2 separate regions of the Homo sapiens genome follow, and region 1 is linked to region 2. Evidence: fine-mapped expression QTL. A gene starts in region 2. The other region holds a variant in brackets. All regions are shown on one strand. Distances are between the middles of the regions. Region 1 overlaps PRPF40B (pre-mRNA processing factor 40B). Region 2 holds the start of FMNL3 (formin like 3).

Region 1 (2,904 bases), 67 kb after region 2:
CCAGCCCCTCACACTATTGAAGGTCAGCTTGATGTTGCCTGCGTCCAGTGCGGCAGCCCTCTTGTCAAAGCTTATGACGTGGGCGAAGTCCTCAAAGGCCGTGTTCACCTCCACGCAGAAGCCCCGGTCCTGTGGGTACAGCAGTGCATGAAGCAGGGGCACCACGTGCCTGAGGCCAAAGCTGGCAGGCAGAGTGGTCACATTACAGATGGTCAAGAAGGCCCTTGCCTCTGGAAGAGATCCACAGGACTGTGGTCTGCATTAGAAACCAAGTTATCCAAGTCCTCATCACTTGACAATTAAGCCCCCATGCCTACCCTTGGTTTGGATGTCACACAGAGCTGAAGGGGTTGGGAGATGTCTCCCAACTGCTGATTAATGCTGAGTTTCTCAAAATTAACTTTTGTTCCTTTGGCTTAAAGCTCTGGCCCCAGCTGGGCCCTCCTGCTGCTCAGCAGTGCTTCCATGCATTCTCAATCAACATTTGCTGGCCCCTACCCTTTGGGTCTATTTATTGAGTGCTTACTATGTACCAGGTACCATGATGAGTGTTTCACACATTATCTCATTTAATCCTCTTGGTTCTACATTTAAGAATAGGTCCTAGTATCCTAATTTTACACAGAAGGAGAAACCAAGGTTCAGAGAAACTAGAGCACTTGCCCAAGGTCTCACAGCTGATATACGGCTGGGCAAGAACCCTACCCTGGGGGGGCTCTCTATCCCCAAAGTGTCTGCTTTCAAGCACCACACCCACCCAGATGACTTAGTCCATGGGAGAAACGGAGGCCACCAGGTGTGCAGCTCCCCACCAATACTAAAAACATGTCCACAGGCCAGGCTCTATGCTTCTCATTTAGGCCTCACAACATTCCAGTGAAGCAGAGGCTTAGAAAAGTGATCTCAGTTGGCCCAAGATGACATGAGTGGTAAATGAAGCCACTGGAGTTCAAAGTCTGGCTCTCACGTCAGTTAAGCACAGGCCAGATTCCCTTTCTCTCCCTCCACATAGCTCTCACCTCCTCTGGCCTTTTTGCTGATGGCAGAGGTGTGCTCCTCTTTCTTCTTTCCAAGGGTACTTCCTCAACCCTGCTACAGTCCTTATCAACACAGCATTCATTCTCAGGGAATTGAAAGCTCCAAGTCACCCTTGTTACTGGCTCCTTCCATCAAGCAGACACCTCACCTAACCTGGAACATCCTTTCCACCATGCTCTCCCCTTCATCAAGCTAACTACCTCTGCTCTTTTCCATTGTTTCAAAACCTCTTGAAATGCAGCAGAAA[G/A]GAAAAGGAATAAACATTTATTGAGAACCTATTAGACACTTTACAGATGTTATTTAATTCTCACAACCTTACCTATGAATTATCCCTGATTTACAGGTGAGCAAACAGGCTCAGAGACACGGAACTTACGGAGGTCTCAGAGCCAATAAGCAACCAGGAGTAATCTGACTCTAAAACATGTGCTGCCCCCATGCCACCTCCATGACTCTACTCTCCCAAAGGTTGCTTGTGTCTACTAGCCAAATCCAAGGCCGCCTTCTTTGTCCTCACTCATCTGGTCCTCAGTGCCTCTACCACTTACTTCTTCAACACTCCCCTCTCCAGGTCACACCCTCTCTGACCTTTTATTCTCTTGCATATGCATGTTCCTGAGAACAGCACTTAGTCCTCTTTCACTACCCAATCTGTACTCCCTCGCAATCTCATCCTTCATCTCTCCTGATTTTCAAACATCCTAGACTGGATATTTCAGACACTTAAAATTCAACAGATCTCAAGAGAATATATTTCTCATGAGCATCCTCCATGGATCTCCCTGACCCGGATCTGTCTGCCTGTTCTAAGTCCAGGGCTCTTTGCATTATCCTATGGGATGAAAGGCACCATCATGGTCTGCCTGGCTGTGGAAAGCAAGAGGGACTCCTGGGCTCATCTGCCCTCCATAGGCAGGAACCCAAATGGGGAAAGAGGAAGGGAACTGTCTAAAAAAGTTGCTTTCTCAGGTTGTGTGGAGAGACAGGACTCAGTGAGGATAGGCCCCTACAGGCCTATCAACCAGCCACTCTGTGGCTAAAAGTTAATTGTCCAATAAAATTTAGCTATCCCAGGATAAGGCATTTCTACTTTATACGATTATTCTGTTTTAAAATATATTTGCTTTGAGAGTAATTCCCCAAATAGAATTCCTATTTTCTACAGCCTTGCTCTTCTTGTTTTATCCTTATCAATAGTGCCATCATCCACTGCCCTGACACCTCTGATTCCTTCCTTTCCCTCCATTTCACAAAATCTATCAATTCTACTTAGTGACTCTATCCCACTGGTGTTGAATTCTCCCTTTTTTTTTTAAACAGCAGAAACAGTTTATTAAAATAGAAATCTTATGTAGAACCTTTATGCATAAAAAAGATTCAAGCTGCTTCACTTGAAAACAGGAAGCAGCACCAAATCCCCCCATACTCAACTCCAACCCTTGCTTGTCTCAAGGCACCTACATAGAAACCCAGAGTGTCTCAGAAGAACAGCTGGAGCGCTACAGCCTGCTCTCTTCTGCTGTCCCCACTGCCCCCGGCTAGGATCACCTCCTACAAGATTCCTGCACAGCCTACTGACTTTTCTCCCTGCTCACCCTCTTCCATCCCTCTAACCCAGCTCCTAGCATCTAGTGCTTCTTGGACTTTTGTACCAAGTAGCCCCAACAGTAGGAGAGAGGTCTGGGGATAAGTGAAATGAATATGACTATTTGAATTACCACTATCAGTTTTAGTATCTTGAGGCTTCAAGAACTGCTCTACCTAGCACCACCACCTTCCCTAAGGACATAAGTACGTACTCTAGACTGAAAGGTTCTACTATACACCATCTAATCTGATCATTCCCCGGTTCCTCATTACTTACGA
Region 2 (2,904 bases):
GCACACTGCAACCACCCCATTGGGACTGTAAGCCCTCAGGCCTATGCGGCTAGCGCTCCAGCTCTGAAAATTAACCTTGAAGCCATCATGCCTGTGACAAGCAACAGCTGTGTTTATTTATTTATTGAGACAGAGCCTCACCCTGTCACCCAGGCTAGAGTGGAGTGCCATGAACATGGCTCACTACAGCCTCAACCTCCTAGTTTCAATTGATCCTCCTGCCTCAGCCTCCCAAGTAAGCAACTCTATTTAAAATCTTAATGCCTCTTCCATCTCTATCACCTTTCAGTTTTATTTTTATTAACACTGATCACTAACATCTATACATTTTACTCGTCTAGTTTATTGTCTACCTTTCCTTCTACACAGATTGTGAATTCCAAGAGGACACAATGTATATCCTGTTTGTTCGCAGATGTACCTTCAATGCCCAGAATAGTATCTGGCATAGAATAAACTTTCTAAAATAAATATTTGTTGAATAAATGAATTAAAAATCTAGGTGATAACTTCAGGCATGGTTAGATCCAGGTTCTTGGCATGTCATTAGAATTTTGTCCTGTCTCATAGCTTTTCTCTCCTCTGCGCTGGCTTCATTCTCAAGCAGGCTTGATGTGTTACAGGTGATGATAAGACGGCCACCAGCGGCTGCAGGTTTACATTCTAATAATTTTGCAGCCTAAATGGAGAGAGAGTGAGTGCCTCTTTCCTGATTGTTTCAGAGAAAGCCTTGGATATATCATATTGTCTGGGCTTGGGTCAAGTGACAATCCCTAAAACAGTGTCCATGGGTAGAGGAGGAAAATGTTGTGACTGACTGGGCCTGGGTCATGCGGTCCTTTGGAACTGGGGATAAAATTCAGCTCCATTTAGACTGAGAAGAGGGGAGAGGTGGTTTCCTAAAAGAAAAGGGGGTGCTCTCACTGGAAGAAGATGGCGGCTAGACAACAAATTTCCACCGCAAATGTCAACGACCCAGCCGCCGACTGAGCCCAGAACAGCGTTCTTCTCCCGCCTCTCCATTTTCACACGCAGCCAGATGGTTAAGCTTCTCTCCTCCCAAACGTTTTTTCCCCTGCCTCTGTCGGGTAAGGGCTTCCTCATCCCTCAATGCCTGGTCCAACTATGATCTCCCTCACCCCGACTCTTAACAGGTACTATCTCTCTCCCTCTTCTGAGTATCCTGCTTGTTTCTACTTCTCTTGTAGTTAGTTTTGTACGCCATGCCTTGTATAATATTTTACTTACTTGTATACATCATGAGTTCCTTTTGAAAAAGGGTACGGTCCATTCCCGGTGTGTCCACGCCAGCCCCTCACGCCCTCTGGGAACCGCGGTGATTCGATGCCGGCTGAGGCCGCCAGGGAGCGCTCGGCGCCCGGCACGAGGCCGTCAAGGGCGGGAGGCGCTGTGATTGGCAGACGCGGCCGTCAATCGGGCGCAGGTGGGGCGGGCCGGGCCGCCTGTGAGGCCTCTGGGCGGGAGGCGGGGCCTGCATGAATGGGGCGCGCGTCGCGCGGGCTGCAGTCGGCGCTCGCGGGGGAAGCCCGAGTCTCGGCCGGGTGTGGGTGGGAGGAAGCGAGGTTGGCGGGGGAAGGGAAAGAGCGCGGGGGGCGGGGAGGGGCAGCGCCCGGGCGGCGCGCCGAGCGCGGCGAGGCGGCGGGTGTGAGCAAGAGCCGGCCGCCTCCGTCCGCCTTGCTTCGGTGCGGCTGTCCGCTACGCTGCCTCCGCCCTCGCCGCGCGCCCCCGCCAGCGGGACTCCAGGGAACCCCCGGCGCCCTCGACGGGGCCGAGGAGTCGGGACTCGGGGAGCCGGCGCTGAGGGAGGAGCCTGGTCGGAGCCGCGGAGCCGAAAGCTCCGGAGCGTGGAGGTGGGGGGCCGAGGCCCCTGAGGGGGCCCCGCCGCGATGGGCAACCTGGAGAGCGCCGAGGGGGTCCCGGGAGAGCCCCCCTCTGTCCCGTTGTTGCTGCCGCCCGGCAAGATGCCGATGCCTGAGCCCTGTGAGCTGGAGGAAAGGTTCGCCCTGGTGCTGGTGAGAGCTGAGCCCAGCCCCTTCCCCCGCGTACCGCCCCTCAGGTCCCGACGCCCGGGCTGGGACTTTGTGCTGGGCCCCCGTCCCGCCCACCCTTTCAGTCGGGGTCCCGAACGGATCCCGGCCTCCAGTGTCTTCCCAGGAACCTCTGAGCAGCCGCTGGCCGGCCCGGACAGCCCCGTCGGGGATCTCGGGACCGACGCCTCCACCGCTGGACCCTTAGGAGAAGTCCCCAGTTCGGGACCGTCCTAGGAACCAGGCTTCTCCCTCCTTCTTCCTCCCCCTTCTGCTGCCCTTTTCCCGTTTCCCCGCTTCTTCGCCAGGCTCCCCGTCCCTAGCATTCTCAGCCCGGAGCCTCTCGCGGGTGGGGGGAATTCAGAAGCGCGGCCGGCTCGCTCCTCAGCAGGCTTCCCTGAGTGGGGACACCGCCTCTCCTGCGAACATGGAGGCTTCCCAGGGAGTGGGTCCCACTCCCAGCCCAGACCAGATGTTTGGGGGGAGAGGGGGATGGGGAGGCGGCTGGCAGCTCCTGAAGGGGGTGGAATAAAGAGTATGCCATTCTGCTTATTTTCAGAACGGCCTGCAGGCATCCTGCTAAGTTAGAGTGGATTTGCCTGAAAGGCTGAACATGTGGATAAACCATTTCACTGGGGTATTTCTCCAAGTGAAACAATACACAAACCATCCCGCCTCCTCCCCCCCTTTTCACGTTAAGCCATAGTGACTGGTTTGTGTTGTTTAGCCTGTGCTTTTTAGTCTTTCTGTGGGTTTCAAACGGTCTGTATAAATGGGTTTTTAGAGCTGACTTTGGGATTCTTCTTTGGTGTGGGAATTGGACATTGATGTCAGTGGCTCTATGAAGCGAGAGGTT

Evidence for each region. PIP is the estimated chance that this variant, and not a neighbour inherited with it, causes the effect.
Region 1: its variant is the best candidate, but not a certain one, in a credible set for the expression of FMNL3 in whole blood (TOPMed, PIP 0.61).

Annotation. Positions count from the first base shown.
Region 1 is chr12:49,639,133-49,642,036 of GRCh38, reverse strand. PRPF40B (pre-mRNA processing factor 40B) reads right to left here. Exons shown (of 26, transcript NM_001031698.3): 19 at 13-129. It overlaps FMNL3 (formin like 3), which reads left to right. Exons shown (of 26, transcript NM_175736.5): 26 at 1-2,904. Among named protein-coding and RNA genes, the nearest start is that of PRPF40B, 17 kb to the right of the region's middle. The variant G/A (reference allele first, on the strand shown) is at 1,286.
Region 2 is chr12:49,706,184-49,709,087 of GRCh38, reverse strand. FMNL3 (formin like 3) reads left to right here and starts at 1,683. Exons shown (of 26, transcript NM_175736.5): 1 at 1,683-2,033. The coding sequence starts at 1,908. It overlaps LOC124902929 (a long non-coding RNA gene), which reads right to left and starts at 1,362. Exons shown (of 3, transcript XR_007063299.1): 1 at 1,249-1,362. It also overlaps the pseudogene COX5BP5. RefSeq lists an enhancer at 1,100-1,249 and a silencer at 1,270-2,039.